Regions from separate parts of the Homo sapiens genome. Here region 2 is linked to region 1. Evidence: fine-mapped expression QTL. A gene starts in region 1. The other region holds a variant in brackets. All regions are shown on one strand. Distances are from middle to middle.

Region 1 (8,328 bases):
AGTTGGTGGAAAAAATAAGCCAGGAATCTCTCTTAACTCCATCTCCTGTACACCCAGTATACAGCCACAGAAGTGGCTTGAATGGATGTTTTTTTTCGCTGTCAGGTCAGATGATTGAGAAATATTTATGATGTGCCAAGCATGGTGGGAGACACGGGACACTGCAGGTAACAACACAGACCCCATCCTTGTGCTCCGAGAGGAGGAGGAAAGCTGTGTTAAGATATCATGAAGGCTGGGCATGGCGGCTCATGCCTATAATTCCAACACTTCGGGAGGTGGGCGGATCATTCGAGGTCAGGAGTTCAAAACCAGATTGGCCAACATGGTGAAATCCTGTCTCTACTAAAAATCCAAAAATTAGCCAGCCGTAGTGGTGCATGCCTGTAATCCCAGCTACTCAGGAGGCTGAGGCAGGAGAATCACTTAAACCCGGAAGATGGAGGTTGCAGTGCAGCCGAGATTGCGCCACTGCACTCCAGCCGGGGCGACAAAGTGAGACCATGTCTAAAAAAAAAAAAGGCTGGACACGGTGGCTCACGCCTGTAATCCCAGCACTTTGGGAGGCTGAGGTGGGTAGATTACGAGGTCAGGAGTTCAAGACCAGCCTGACCAACATGGTGAAACCCTGTCTCTACTAAAAATACAAAAATTAGCCAGGCATGGTGGCACACGTGTAATCCCCGCTACTCAGGAAGCTGAGGCAGGAGAATCGCTTGAACCCAGGAGGTGGAGTTTGCAGTGAGATGAGATCGCACCACTTCACTCCAGCCTGGGTAACAGAGTGAGACTCCGTCTCAAAAAAAAAAAAAAAAAAATTTAAAAAGCTAGGCGTGGTGGCTCACGCCTGTAACCCCAGCACTTTGGGAGGCCAAGGTGGGAGGATTGCTTGAGCTCAGGAGTTCATGACCAGCCTGAGCAACATAGCAAGACCCTGTCTCTGTTTAAAAAAAAAAAAGAAAGGCCGGGTGCAGTGGCTCACGCCTGTAATCCCAGCACTTTGGGAGGCTGAGGCGGGCAGATCACAAGGTCAGGTGATCAAGACCATCCTGGCTAACACAGTGAAATCCCGTCTCTACTAAAAAATACAAAAAATTAGCCGGGCGTGGTGGCGGTTGCCTGTAGTCCCAGCTACTCGGGAGACTGAGGCAGGAGAATGGCGTGAACCCAGGAGGTGGAGCTTGCAGTGAGCCGAGATTGCGCCACTGCACTCCAGCCTGGGCGACAGAGCGAGATTCCATCTCAAAAAAAAAAAAAAAAAATGAAGGAGGCTGGGCGTGGTGGTGGCTTACGCCTGTAATCCCAGCACTTTGGGAGCCCAAGGTGGGAGGATTACTTGAGCCCAGGAGTTTGAGACCAGCTAGGCAATGTAGTGAGACCCTTTCTCTACAAAAAAAAAAAAAAAATTTAGCCAGGTGCCGTGCATGCCTGTGGTCCCAGCTACTTGGAAGGCTGAGGTGGGAGGATCACTTGAGCCTGAGAGATGGAGACTGCAGTGAGCCATGATTATACCACTGCACTCCAGCAGCCTGGGCAAGAAAGCAAGACCTTGTCTCCAAAAAAAAAAAAAGGCATGAGGATGAATTCAATAAATTCAAGAATATTCTGTGTACTACCTTGACCAAATTGTATTAATATTTAGAGAATATTATACCAAACAACTACACCGTGTACTTGAATTTCTAGCGTACGTACAATGTGGATCGAGATACCCTGCACCATTCTAAAAAGTCAGTACATTTCAAAGTATTGAAATTATATGACCACAAAGGAGTTAAAAATCATTAACAGTAAGCTGCCCCCCAAAAAGCCCAAGTACTTGGGCATTAAGCAACACACATATTCTCTGGATCATAGAAAAGAAAGCACAATGGAAATAAGCAAATATTTCTAACTTAATGACGCTCAATATATGAAAATGTGTGGCATGCAGTTAAAACAGTTCTTGGAGGGAAAGGTGTACCTTTAAATGCTTGTATTAGAAGATAAAGGTGGGCCGGGTGCGGTGGCTCACGCCTGTAATCCCAGCACTTTGGGAGGCCGAGGCAGGTGGATCATGAGGTCAGGAGATCGAGACCATCCTGGCTAACATGGTGAAACCCCATCTCCACTAAAAATACAAAAAATTAGCCATGCATGGTGGTGGGTGCCTGTAGTCCCAGCTACTCAGGAGTCTGAGGCAGGAGAATGGCGTGAACCTGGGAGGCAGAGCTTGCAGTGAGCCGAGATCACGCCATTGCACTCCAGCCTGGGCGACAGAGCAAGACTCCGTCAAAAAAAAAAAAAAAAAAGAGGGTTTAAAGTTAATGAGCTGCCTGTAATCCCAGCACTTTGGGAGGCTGAGTCAGGAGGATTGCTTGAGCCCAGGAGTTCAAGATCAGGCTGGGTAACATAATAGGACCCTGTCTCTACAATTTTTTTTTTTTTAATTAGCCAGGTGTGGTGGTGGACACCTGTAGTCCCAGCTACTCAGGAGGCTGAGATGGGATGATCTCTTGAGCCCAGCAGGGTGAGGCTGCAGTGAGTCATGATCATGCTGCTTCACTGTAGCCTGAGCAATAGAGCAAGACCCTGTCTCAAAAAAAAAATGTTTTTTTGTTGTTTTTTTTTTGAGACAGAGTCTCGCTCTGTTGCCCAGGCTGGAGTGCAGTGGCATGATCTCAGCTCACTGCAAGCTCTCCTTCCCGGGTTCACGCCATTCTCCAGCCTCAGCCTCCCGAGTAGCTGGGACTACAGGCACCCACTACCACATCTGGCTAATTAAAAAAAATTTTTTTTTAATAAAAAGAGTTTATATAAGCATCCATCTTAAGAAGCTATTAATACAAATTTCTGCTGGTGAAGTTTAAATTTAAAAACAAAACATGAGCTAGGAAAAGAAGAGCCAATTGAACATAAGGTAACCAGAAAAAAGAAAAGAATAAAGTCAAGTCAAAAGGCAATAAAATAGAAAATAAAACAACAAATCCAAACTGTGGCACTTTGAAAAGATCAATAACAATGATTAGCTCCTAGGAAGACCGATAAGAGACAAGGAGACTTCACTAATTTATGTGTCAGGAATGAAAGAAGGAACATCACTACAGACCCTACAGACATTAAAAGGATAGTAAGGGGATATAAATAACTTTACACCAATACATTTGACAACTCTGATGAAATGAGCAAATTCCTTGAAGATACAAGCATGCCAATTGCAATAAAGGAATATTACAGGGCACTGTGGGAGAATTTAGCTAGGGGATTGTTCTAAGTCCAGAGGGGCCTGGAAAGTTTTCCCAGAAGTGCTATTTAAACTGAGACCTGAAGGAGAAGCAGGATTTGACCAGGTTGACAGAATTGTGTTCCAGGCCAGGGAAATAGTGTGTGCAAAGGCCCTGAGGTTGGATTGAACTTTCTGTGTCCAAAGAAAAAAGTTTACTCTAATGACGCATTTTGGTGTTTGATGACCACATGCCACATCCTTCTTGGGTCCAAACCCCCAAGCAAACCTGACTGGCTTGAACAGAAATGTTTAAAAAGATAAATGCAAACCCAGTAGTAAGAGAAACTTGGAAGTTTCTGGGCTGTAAACAGGAGGCAGTTTATCCTGTGAACTATATCACAAACTATATCCAGAATTGATCTGGAACTGGTATTCCCTTTCATGTGGCTGATCAAACTTCTGAGTCTTTTTCCTCCCTGTAACTTTACCTTGTGAGCATGCACTACCCACTAGGCGTTGCATTTCCTACTACAAGTTCTTTGAATCTAATGTCCACTGCTCTTTTTTTTTTTTTTTTTTTTTGAGATGGAATTTCACTCTTGTTGCCCAGGCTGGAGTGCAATGGCGCGATCTCAACTCACCACAATCTCCATCTCCTGGGTTCAAGTGATTCTCCTGCCTCAGCCTCCCGAGTAGCTGGGATTACAGGCGTGTGCCACCACGCCCGGCTAATTTTTTGTATATAGTAGAGACGGGGTTTCACCACGTTGGCCTGGTCTCGAACTCCTGACCTCAGGTGATCTGCCCACCTCAGCCTCCCAAAGTGCTGGGATTACAGGCGTGAGCCACCACGTCTGGCCTAATGTCTACTACTCTTAGCCCCATTCTGCAGAGCAGTATACTGAAGCCTCAAAGGAGGTAAGCCATGCCTGAGGTCACAGAGGCCAAGCCCTAACCACCATGTCCTCCCACTCCTGCCCATATTTGTTTAAATGTTGGTGCTGGTTAGGCTATGGTTTGTGTCTTGGGCATGGGTTTCCAAACATCCCACTGCTGTCACCCTGTCTCATTCCCAGGAGTTCTCTTAGAAGGAGAGACAAAAGGCTGGGCACGGTGGCTCACGCCTGAAATCCCAGCACTTTGGGAGGCTGGGGCGGGCAGATAATGAGGTCAAGAGATCGAGACCATCCTGGCCAACACAGCAAAACCCCGTCTCTACTAAAAATACAAAAATTAGCTGTGCATGATGGCTCCTGCCTGTAGTCCCAGCTACTCAGGAGGCTGAGGCAGGAGAATCACTCGAACCTGGGAGGTGGAGGCTGCAGTGAGCCGAGATCGCTCCACTGCACTCCAGCCTGGGCAACAGAGCAAGACTCTGTCTCAAAAAATAAAAATAAAAAAAGAGGAAAAAATTGTGAAAACCACCTAAACATCTCATCCATTTTTTTCCCCTCTAATCTGCAGAACCGCAACCAGAGAGGTGCGCGGGTCTGATGTGTGTTTGGGGAAGGGGTGGGGAGGGGAGAGAGTCCCTTTCAGTGCCCAAGCCTGTGTGTGCAACTTCCTGCCAGTGAGGAAACTCTCAGCTCGAGAATCAGCCCTGGTTCTCCTTTCCCCGATCTGGCCTCACAGGAGGAGTTGGCGGGGAGCCTTGGGCCCCTCTGGCCTCAGCCGGATTTCCCAGCCAAACGCAGAGAGAGATGCCCTGGACCATCTTGCTCTTTGCAGCTGGTGAGTCTGAAGCCCCCCTCTCAGATCCCCCACGCCTTTCCCCCCATCCTCTGTCCACCTTGCCGCTCCAGGGGCAGAAACCAGTGCAGGGGCTGCCGTTCTCAGGGCATCGAGGAGGCTGAGCCCTTGGCAGATGGGTTTTCCCCCTGAGCCTTGGAAACTCTCCAGTAGTGTTGGTTTTTTCTTCTTAGGCTCCTCATCACCCCCAAGTTTATGAATATCAGAAATATCACCCCTCTGGAGTCAGCTGTGCCCACACCCCATGATTCAGCCCCGCTTCGTCTCTGAAGGCTCCTTGAGTGCTGGGGCAGCAGGAGGGTCTACCTAGGGGGATATCAGTGTGGCAGGGGTGGGTGGGGGTTGGAGGCTGGACGAGGGAGGGTTTGTATAGACCTCACCTGGCCAGACACTCTGCTCAGAAGCCTGTGGGCAATCAGGAGAGAGATGGATCCCCAGGAGACCATCCTGCAGGAAGCCGTGCTCCAAAATCCGTATTCTTCACCCAAGCCTGGGAAAGGAGATAAAAGTCCTCTGCCCTTCCTTCTCCTGCCCTCCCTCTCACTCACCCCCTCCCCTTCCTGCCACCCACCTCACTCACCCCCTCCCTCCTGCCATGATGGCCTCCTTGCTGCTCCTTTTTTAATATTTATTTTTATTTTTAAATAGAGACAGGGTCTCACTGTGTTCTCCAGGCTAGTCTCAAATTCCTGGGCTCAAGCAGTCCTCCCACCTTGGCCTCCCAAAGTGCTGGGATTACAGGCGTGAGCCACTGCATCAGGTGTTTGCTCCTCCTTAAACACCCCCATTCCCCTTCCATCCCCTGGACCTTTGCCTATGCTGTTCCCTCTGTTGGAATGCCCTTCCCCAGCTCTCCAAATGGGTCCTTCCTCACCACTCAGGACTCAGCTCGTGGGAGGCCAAGGTGGGAGGATCACTTGAGGTGAGGATCTGGGCAACATAGTGAGATCCCATCTCTACACAAAATAAGCAAAATTAGCTAGCCAGGTTCACCAGCCTGGCCAACATGGTGAAACCCCGTCTCTACTAAAAATATAAAAATTAGCCAGGCATGGTGGCACATAGTCCCAGGTACTCAGGAGGCTGAGGCCACTGTACTCCAGCCTGGGCGACAAAGCAAGATTTTGTCTCTAAATAAATAAATAAAGTAATAATAAATTAAATAAAAAATAAGAGTATAGTTGTGTTGCTATGTAATAACCAATGCTATTATTGAAAACTGATGGCCAGGCATGGTAGCTCACGCCTATAATCCCAGCACTTTGGGAGGCCGAGGTGGGGGGAGTCACACGAGGCCAGGAGTTCGAGACCAGTCTGGCCAATATAGTGAAACCCCATCTCTACTAAAAATATAAAAATTGGCCAGGCATAGTGCCACATGCCTGTAATCCTAGCTACTTGGGAGGCTGGAGAATCACTTGAACCCGGGAGGTGGAGGCTGTAGTGAGCCGAGATCACACCACTACATTCCATCCTGGGTGGCAGAGTGAGACTCCGACTCACAAAAAAAAGAAAAAAGAAAAGTAATTCAACTACAGGGAGCCGTCACCATGTGCCAGGCAGTGTGGGGTAGGGTCACTAGCCTCCTGACTCACAGAAAACACAAGGCTGAGGGAGGGTGGTCTACTTGCCCGAGGCCACATAGCCAGGGCAGCCTCCACTCTCACCACGCACCCACCCACCTTACCCTCTGCATTGCAGGCTCCTTGGCGATCCCAGCACCATCCATCCGGCTGGTGCCCCCGTACCCAAGCAGCCAAGAGGACCCCATCCACATCGCATGCATGGCCCCTGGGAACTTCCCGGGGGCGAATTTCACACTGTATCGAGGGGGGCAGGTGGTCCAGCTCCTGCAGGCCCCCACGGACCAGCGCGGGGTGACATTTAACCTGAGCGGCGGCAGCAGCAAGGCTCCAGGGGGACCCTTCCACTGCCAGTATGGAGTGTTAGGTGAGCTCAACCAGTCCCAGCTGTCAGACCTCAGCGAGCCCGTGAACGTCTCCTTCCCAGGTAAGGCCCTTCTATGGGATCTCACTGCCGGGGGCTTAATTTTCTCACATGGACCTCTTGTGTGTACTGTTGACTCAGAGGCCTTCCCAGAAAAAGCCAGGCTTACACCCTGCCAGGACTTACTCGCCTTTCCTTTTTCAATCTTCTCAGCCAGCCCAAAAGGGGATTTGTTGGTTCACTGAGCTTAAGTCAGCTCACAGGGCCGACTTCAGGTATGGCTAGATCCAGGTGCTGAAAGCTGTCAGGGACCATTTGCCCCATCTCTGCTCCACATTCTTCTCCGTCTTATTGTCAGGCAGCCCGTCTCCCTCTTGGTGCCAAAATTGGTGCTGTGATTCTTCCCATTTTGCAGATAAGGAAACTGAGGCACAGGAGGTACACACCTTGTACACAGGTAACAGGTAGCCAGTCTGGGATGCCATTGCCTTCCAAAAACCATGAATTACACCTCCGTGACATACATTACTTCCCCTCTTGGCCACATACTTTTTTTGTTTGTTTGCTTTGAGATAGTTATGCTCTTGTTGCCCAGGCTGGAGTGCAGTGGCACGATCTTGGCTCACTGCAGCCTCTGCCTCCTGGTTCAAGCGATTCTTCTGCCTCAGCCTCCTGAGTATCTGGGATTACAGGTGTGTGCCACCATGCCCGGCTAATTTTTGTATTTTTAGTAAAGACAGGATTTCACCATGTTGGCCAGGCCAGTCTCGAACCCCTGACCTCATGATCCGCCTACCTCAGCCTCCCAAAGTGCTGGAATTACAGGCATGAGCCACTGCACCTGGCTTTTTTTTTTTTTTAAATGAGACAAGGTCGTGCAGACTAGAGGGCAATGGCACAATCATAGCTCACTTCATCCTCCAATTCCTATCCTCAAGTGATCCTCCCACCTCAGCCTCCTAAGTAGCTGAGACTACAGGTGTGCACCACCATGCCCAGCTAATTTAAAAAATTATTTTAGAGATGAGGGTCTAAAATGTTGACCAGGGCCGGACATGGTAGCTCATGCTTGTAATCCCAGTACTTTGGGAAGCTGAGGTAGGTGGATCACCTGAGGTCAGAGCTTAAGACCAGCCTGGCCAACATGGTGAAACCCTATGTCTATTAAAAATACAAAAAATAGGCTGGGCGTGGTGGCTCACGCCTGTAATCCCAGCACTTTGGGAGGCCGAGGCGGGTGGATCATGAGGTCAGGAGATTGAGACCATCCTGGCTAACAAGGTGAAACCCCGTCTCTACTAAAAATACAAAAAATTAGCCGGGCGCGGTGGCGGGCACCTGTAGTCCCAGCTACTCGGGAGGCTGAGGCAGGAGAATGGCGTGAACCCGGGAAGCAGAGCTTGCAGTGAGCCGAGATTGCGCCACTG
Region 2 (8,328 bases), 130 kb after region 1:
GGCGTGAGCCACCGCGCCCGGCCTGGAGGTTTTCTTATAGACCACCGAGGGGAACATTTTGTTTTGTAGTTCACGCATAGTAAACGGGGCTGGCTCTGCGGAAGCCATCCTGCCCATTGCTGTTGTTCCGCCCAAGCCTCTGCCATAACCTGACTCCCACGTTGGTCTGCTGCTGAAATGTGTCCGTGAACAAATTTCCCCAAGCCCCAAAAAACACAATAGCAGATATCCTGGGACCAAACTTAAATATAATGCTAGTTTCTCATGCAAGGTGAAAACAACCACCATAATTCCAACAAACAGATTTCCAAGGGATCCGATTGCTGGTTAGCAACCTGCCCTGCCTGGGGCTGGTCACCGCAGTGCTTTAAGACAAAAGCTAGGGGTGGCGTGAAAGAAGAGACCAGACCTCTTCTCTTCCTCAAGCAGTCTCCTTCCACATTTGAACGTCAACAGATGTTTCTATTTTAGATGATAATTTTGATGAAGTTGAAAATAATGAGAACATGGTAGTTCTCACATCCTTTGATCTTTCTCTTTTATTTCCACAAAGACACTTCCTGGGCATTTCTTGTGGGTATTTATTTCATGGGTATTCTGATTTAGGCTTTTTTTTTTTTTCTTGGAAGTTTTTCTTTAAAAATCTGAATATAAAAAGTAATAGATGGCTATTGTAAAAAATAAATAAAAAGCGCCAGACATCTGTGATATGGAAAGGGTAAGTTCCTCATCACATGCCATCAGAGAGAGCTACTGGCTGTGCTGACAGCGGTTTGTGCATGTTTTCTTTGGGGTAATTTCTATGCATGGATTAACATGCATATATATATATATATATATATATTTTTTTTTTTTTTTTTTTTTTTTTTTTTTTTTTTGAGACAGAGTCTTGCTCTATTGCCTGGGCTAGAGAGCTGTGGTGCGATCTTGGCTCACCGCAACCTCTGGCTGCTGGGTTCAAGTGATTCTCCTGCCTCTGCCTCCCAAGTAGCTGTGATTACAGGTGCCCACCACCACGCCTAGCTAACTTTTGTGTTTTTGTAGAGATGGGGTTTCACCACGTTTGCCAGGCTGGTCTCGATCTCAGGTGATCCGCTCGCCTCAGCTTCCGACAGTGCTGGGATTACAGCTGTGAGACACCATGCCCAGCCATATGCATATATAGTTATTCTTTTTTTTTTTTTTTTTTTTTTGAGACAGGGTCTCTGTCGCTCAGGATGGAGTGCAGTGGCGTGATCTTGGCTCACTGCAACCTCCGTTTCCTGGTTCAAGTGATTATCGTGCCTCAGCCTCCTGAGTAGCTGGGACTACAGGCATGCACCATTACCCCTGGCTGACTTTTGTATTTTTACTAGAGATGGGATTCTGCTATGTTGGCCAGGCTGGTCCCGAACTCTTGGCCTCAGGTGATCTGCCTTCCTTGGCCTCCAAAGTGCTGGGATTATAGGCATTAACACCATATCCAACCTTACTTTTTTTTTTTTTTTTTTGAGTGTTTCTCTGTTGCCAGGCTGGAGTGCAGTGGCGCGATCTTGGCTCACTGCAACCTCCACCTCCCGGGTTCAAGCGATTCTCTTGCCTCAGCTTCCCGAATAGCTGGGACTACAGGCCAGCTCCACCACGCCCAGCTAATTTTTGTATTTTAGTAGAGATAGGGTTTCACCATGTTGGCCAGGGTGGTCTCAAACTCCTGACCTTGTGATCCGCCCACCTTGGCCTCGCAAAGTGCTGGAATTGTAGGCGTGAGCCACCACGCCCAGCCTCTCAATTCTTTTTTGATGTGCCAAGACTTCTGCAGCGTGGGTTGTGTGGGGGTTCTGATTGCTGGGCAATTGAGGAGCTTCTCAAGAAATTGAGGCAATATGGCCACACCACTTCTAGACCCTTTGGCCCAGGGAAAGGGTTAACCTCCTGGACTTTTAACTGAGTGTTTTACATCTTAGCTTTTAGATTCTTGTGCCAGAGTAGTTTCACTTCCGGTCATTCCTTCTGGCTGCTGGCCTGGATTCCCAGGCTCTGTTTTCTCCTTGTGGAGGCCCCGGCAGCACCCGATCCAAGGGCCGCACACATCTGGATTTGGCTTCCACACGCTGTACTAACTATTCTTGCCCTTTTGGCCCCTGAATCCCCTCATCCTTTGCTTTTTCCACCTGAGTAGGTGTGGCCTCCTGGTCTGCAATGGATTTCATTGCTGCGTGAATTTCCCCTGCTAGTGACTTATCATTGAGGGCCCCATTGCAGGACTCTAAGCGGCACCGTGTAAGACACCTTAGGGACGACCTTTGGCCACCCCAGGACTTTGCTGAAAATGCCAAATCCTTCGTTTCCTGTATAGAAGGGCAGGGATGATTGGCGATGGGGTAAGAAGGGGTAGAGAGAGAGGTGTTCCTTGTCCTTAGACACCTTTCCTGGCCGTGCTCGTTTGGCCTTCCCGTGTAGACATCTCGCCGGAGCAAGGTGCACCCAGCCCCACACCCCATCCAGCTTCTACAGGGCTGGCCTCACCCCAGCCCTTCAGGGAGGGTGAGCTGGCCAGGAGGAGGTTGAGGGCTGAGAACAACACCATGCTTATGGCTGTGGGAGCAAGGAGGGATAAGAGATGTTTGTGGGTCAGGCACTGTGGCTTGGGCTAGGTGCGGTGGCTCATGCCTGTAGTCCTAGCACTTTCGGAGGTTGAGGTGGGCGGATCACTTGAGCCCAGGTGTTTGAGACCAGCCTGGGCAACACGGCGAGACCTCATTTCTATAAAGAAATACAAAAATTAGCTGGGCATAGTGGCATGAGCCTGTAGTCCCAGCTACTCGGGAAGTTGAGATGGGAGGATCACTTGAGCCCAGAAGTTCAAGGCTGTGAGCTGTGATGGCGCCACTGCATTCCAGCCTGGGAGACAGAGCGAGACCCTGTCTCAAAAAAAAAAAAAAAATTGGGCCGGGCGTGGTGCCTCTCATCTGTAATCCTAGCACTTTGGGAGGCCGAGGCAGGCGGATTGCCTGAGCTCAGGAGTTTGAGACCAGCCTGGGCAACATGGCAAAAACCCTGTCTCTACTAAAATACAAAAAAATTAGCCAGGTTCGGCAGTGTGCGCCTGTAGTCCCAGCTACTCGGGAGGCTGAGGCAGGAGAATCGCTTGAACCTAGGAGGCGGAGGTTGCAGTGAGCCAAGGTCGCACCACTGCGCTAAGCCTGGGTGACAGAGCGAGACTCTGTCTCCAAAACAAATAAATAAACAAATAACAAGAACAAAATTCTTGGCAGCCGGCCAAATCTGTGTGCATTGCTTGCCAGGGTGGGCGTGTCATGGCTGACAGCAGGTCCTGGATCGCACCTAGGGGTTTGCTGCTCTCCAGCCAGCTGCTTCTACCTGATGCGCGCCCAAGAGGGGAAGCCAGTCTGTTGTTCCTGAGCATTGCGGGGCAGGAGTGTTACCTGCGGTTTGTGCTGGGGGGAGGCTGCGTTACGGACTCGAGTTTTTTTTTGTTTTGTTTTTGTTTTTTTTGAGATGAACTCTTGCTCTGTTGCCCAGGCTGGAGTGCAGTGGTGTGATCTCGGCTCACTGCAGCCTCTGCCTCTCGGGTTCAATCAATTCTCCTGCCCCAGCCTCCCGAGTAGCTGGCATTACAGGCATGCACCACCATACCCAGCTACTTTTTGTTTTTTAAGTAGATACGGGGTTTCACCAAGTCGGCCAGGCTGGTGTTGAACTTCTCACCTCAAGTGACCCGCCCGCCTCGGCCTCCCAAAGTGCTGGGATTACAGGCATGGGCCACCATGCCCAGCCCATGACTCAGTTTTCTCATTTCTGTTCAGGGAAAGGAGCCTCTGCTTCACATTTTGATGGGAGCATCTGAGGACCTCATCTGTGTGATGCTCCTAGTGCGATACCTTTCACGTGCTAAGCAGCTGCTCAGTAAACCTGGGGAGAGATGGGGCACCTTGGTTTCACCAGCTGAGCGGCTGGCACTTCCTGCCTGTGAGTGATGGTTCGATGTTCCAGCCTGTGGAGGAGGAGGTGGAGCCACAGGGAGGTTACCCGTGAGGCAGGTGGCACCGTGGCTTCACAGTCCATGTTCAGAGTGTGGGATGCATGGCAGTGAGTTCCACTGTGGCCTTGGCCTTGTGACCTGAACTCTTCCACTTCCCTGTCATCTGTCAGCTGGCCAGCAGGACCACTGTAGTCCCTGTGTGGTGGTGAGGGCCCAGTGCGGGGAGTCTCAGTTGTTACCATCAAGTAGGCTGAGGCCCCTACCTCCTGGCTAGATCTTCCTTCCTTGCCATTTCTTTGTGACTGAGACATCCTCAGCAGTTGTAAATCACAGGGAGGTGAAGGCAAGCCACAGTCCCCGCTGGATTTGCAAATATCCCTTCCCTTCCTCTGTCAGCATGACCTTACGGTAGACGAGGATTTCTTAAATAGGACCCCAGAAATGTTAAACCTCAAAGACCAAACTTGATGAACTGGCCTTCATTAGAATTAAGAGCTTCTCTCTCTTTTTTTCTGTTTGTTGAGATGGAGGTTTACTCTTATTGCCCAGGCTGGAGTGCAATGATGTAATCTCGGCTTCACTGCAACTTCCACCTACCGGGTTCAAGTGATTCTCCTGCCTCAGCCTCCTAAGTAGCTGGGATTATAGGCATGCACCCACCACGCCTGGCTAATTTTTGTATTTTTAGTAGAGACGGGTTTTACCATTTTGGTCAGGCTGGTCTCGAACTCCTGACCTCTGCTTGCCTCGGCCTCCCAAAGTGCTGGGATTACAGGTATGAGCCATCACGCCCGGCCGATACTTTCTACTTTTTAAAAGTGGATACCGGCCACATATGTGGTGGCTCGTGCCTGTAATCCCAGCACTTCTGGAGGCTGATGCAGGTGGATCAGGAGTTCAAGACCAGCCTGGCCAACATGGCGAAACCCCGTCTCTACTAAAAATACAAAA[A/AAT]ATATATATATATATATATTTTAGCCAGGTATAGTGGTGCGTGCCTGTAATCCCAGCTACTCGGGAAGCTGAGGCACGATAATCGCTTGAACCTAGGAGGCGGAGGTTGCAGTGAGCCGAGATCACGCCACTGCACTCCAGCTTGGGTGATGGAGCAAGACTCTGTCTCTAAATAAATAAATAAATAGATAGATAGATATCTCAATAGCCAGTAAGCATACAGAAAGGTGCTCCGTGCCATTAGTTGTGAGGGACATGCAAATGAAGACCATAAGAAGATGCGATTGGACATTGGCAACATTGTTAAAAGTTGTAAGGACTGACAGCAGCAAGTGTTGGGGTTGATGAAGAGCACCTGGAATGCTGTCCCTGTGTGGGAGGTGGGACCGTGTGTGTAGATGATACAACTATTTTGGAAAACTAGCAAAGCTAAGTTTATGCCTCCCTTTATAACCACCAGTTTCATTCTTGGACACCCAAGAAGAACCAATGCATGTGTTCACCAAATGACTCTCATAGCAGCTTGATTTGTGCTGGCCAGAACCTGGTAGAGTACAATGTCTATGAAAATGAGAATGCTCACATAAAAAGAACGGATGACTCTCCCAGACATGGTGACCCTGTGTGATTGTCTTTTTTTTTTTTTTTTGAGACAGGGTCTTTCTCTGTTGCCCACGATCATGGCTCACTGCAGCCTTGACCTCCTGGGCTCAAACAGTTCTCCCTACTCAGCCTCCTGAGTATAAGCTAATTTAAAAAAAAAAACTTGTAGAGACAGGGTCTTGCTATGTTGCCTAGGCTGGTCTTGAATTCCTGGACTCAAGCGATCCTTCTGCCTTGGCCTCCCAAAGTGCTGGGATTATAGGTATGACCCACTGCCCCCAACATTATATTATTTATATGTTACATATATTATATGTTATAAGTATATATTGTATATTATATAATATATGTATTATAGACGTGACCCACCACACCCGTCATTTTATTGGAAGTTCAATAACAGGTGAAAGGAAGCCACAGTGATAGTCAAAATAGTGGTTTCCCTGGGAGAGTGGTATTGACTGGGGGGGCCCAAGAATGCCTTCTGGAACGTCAGGAGGGATGTCTGACGCAGTGTTCTTCAAGCTGTTCACCTATGATCCTGCGATCAGGGCATGTACAAGTCAGTGAGAGTAAGCAGAATCACACGCTGCTCCCCTCAGTACTGAGCTGAGGACGTGGAGTCGCTCCACGGCTCTCCACTTTGTGCTGCAAGTCGGCCAGTGCTTGTTCAAGTGCAGGCACCAGCAACCTCATCACAGGCTTTGGCACTGGGCGATACTGCTGGGGATGGCTTTGCATCACTCCCGGGCTGTTGGGATCCCCTTTACTGTCACTCTGCACGTGTCTGAGCTTTCAATCCGGAAATGAATTTGCGGATGCTGGTGGCACCCGCGTTCCTGTTTCACTGCAGCCTGACTCTAGAGGCAGCATTTTCAGGAGGAGAGGCCATTCTAACAAGCCTCTGTGAAACCCCGTGCTTCTAAAAAGCAGACTTGCCTTATTCGGGCACAAAATGGTTTTTTGGGGCAGCATCTTCAGTGTACTCTGTTTTTCCGTTGACAAAGTTAGCGCTGCTTTGAGTTGGAGCCGTTCCTGGAGGCTGTGACGGCATCGCATGATTTGATGGAAGGGAGAGGGGAGAAGTTCTAATGCTCAGTGTAAAGTACGATTAGGTGGCATACGCCTGTAGTCCCAGCTACTCGGGAGGCTGAGGCATGAGAATCGCTTGAACCCCGGGGACGGAGGTTGCAGTGAGCAGAGATCATGTCACTGCACTCCAGCCTGGGCGACAGAGTGAGACTCTGTCTCAAAAAAAAAAAAATGTACAATGAGGAGAGCTATAATTTCAGTCACTTCCCAGTGTATGCTCGTTGGCTTGTCCACCTTCAGAGAGGGAAAAGATGGTTTGCCCTCAATGACCTGGATCTTTTTCTCTTTTTCCTCTGAGACAGCGTCTCGCCCTTTTGCCCAGGCTAGAGTGCAGTGGTGCGGTCATGGTTCACTGCAGCCTCAACCTCCTGGACTCAGGTAACCCTCCCACCTCAGCCTCCCAAGTAGCTGGGGCTACAGGCATGTGTCACCAAGCATGGCTAATTTTTGTATTTTTTGTAGAGATGAGGTTTTGCCATGTTGCCCAGGCTGATCTTGAATTTCTGGGTTCAGGCCATCCCCCTGCCTTGGCCTCCCAAAGTGCTGGGATTACAGGCGTGCTGGATTGTATTTTGCTGTCAGTTTCAGTTTATTTGACTTAGAATAAAGACCTTCAAGTGAGGAAGAAGCTATAGGTCCCTGAATATCACAGGATCTATGAAGTATGTGGCAGTCCTGCTGTCCCTTTTCCTACCTCATTGCAACACTCTGTGGACCTGAGAAGACTGTGGGGACAGAAGGCCCAGAGGGGAGCGCCAAGGAGCCAGTGCCTCCCCCTGCCCTGGCCGTGCCCACGTTGCTGGGCTTCCCACCTATGGAGGTAGCTGCAGGCGCATCCTCCCTGCAGACATACCCATGGACCAGAGGCTTCAGGCTCCAAAATCAGCATCTTAGTAACATAAACGCAAGGTTCAGACTGTTGTCACATGGCAGAGGCCAGGGCGGCATCTCATAATCAGACAGATCCTGTTTCTGTAGCAGAATGTGCGAATATCCACACGGAGCAGAATCAGGTCAGATTTTGCCTCCAGATGAATTTCCTTGCAGTAACACATTTAGGTTTGTTTATGTCAGGGGCCATCTTTTCAGGATTGGCTGGAGTGCCAGCCACTGGTTCCTCCCCTGCTGAGTTTCCTGGTCCTCTCTCCTGCTGTTAGCCATGAAAGTGGAATGAGGTCATTTTGAGCCTTTCATCTCTTGTCTAAGAATATATCCCTATGGCTGGGTGCAGTGTCTCACACCTGTAATTCCAGCACTTTGGGAAGTCCAGGCTGGAGGATCCCTTGAGCCAGGATCAACAAGTGTTTGAGACCAGCCTGGGCAACATAGAGAGACCCCTGTCTCTACAAAAAAATTAAGAAAAATTAGCCAGGCATGGTGATGCACTCCTATGGTCCCAGCTACTCGGGAGGCTGAGGCAGGAGGACGGCTTGAGCCCCCGAGGTCAAGGCTGCAGTGGGCTATGATGGCTCCACTGCACTCCAGCTTGGGTGATAGAGTAAGACTCTGTATACAAAACAAAAACCCCTACCTTTCAAATTAAAACTTTTTCCGCTAGATCACCTAATACAATGTAATTTTTGGCCAGGAACGGTGGCTCACACCTGTAATCCCAGCACTTCGGGAGGCCAAGGCGGGTGGATCACCTGAAGGTCAGACGTTCGAGACCAGCCTGGCCAATGTGGTGAAACCCCGTCTCT

Evidence for each region.
Region 2: its variant is fine-mapped to the expression of C19orf38 in whole blood (INTERVAL, PIP 0.95).

Annotation. Positions count from the first base shown.
Region 1 is chr19:10,843,604-10,851,931 of GRCh38, forward strand. C19orf38 (chromosome 19 open reading frame 38) reads left to right here and starts at 4,812. Exons shown (of 7, transcript NM_001136482.3): 1 at 4,812-4,936; 2 at 6,656-6,964. The coding sequence starts at 4,906.
Region 2 is chr19:10,973,847-10,982,174 of GRCh38, forward strand. All of the region lies in intron 1 of SMARCA4 (SWI/SNF related BAF chromatin remodeling complex subunit ATPase 4), which reads left to right. Among named protein-coding and RNA genes, the nearest start is that of SMARCA4, 17 kb to the left of the region's middle. RefSeq lists an enhancer at 3,300-3,992. The variant A/AAT (reference allele first, on the strand shown) is at 4,934.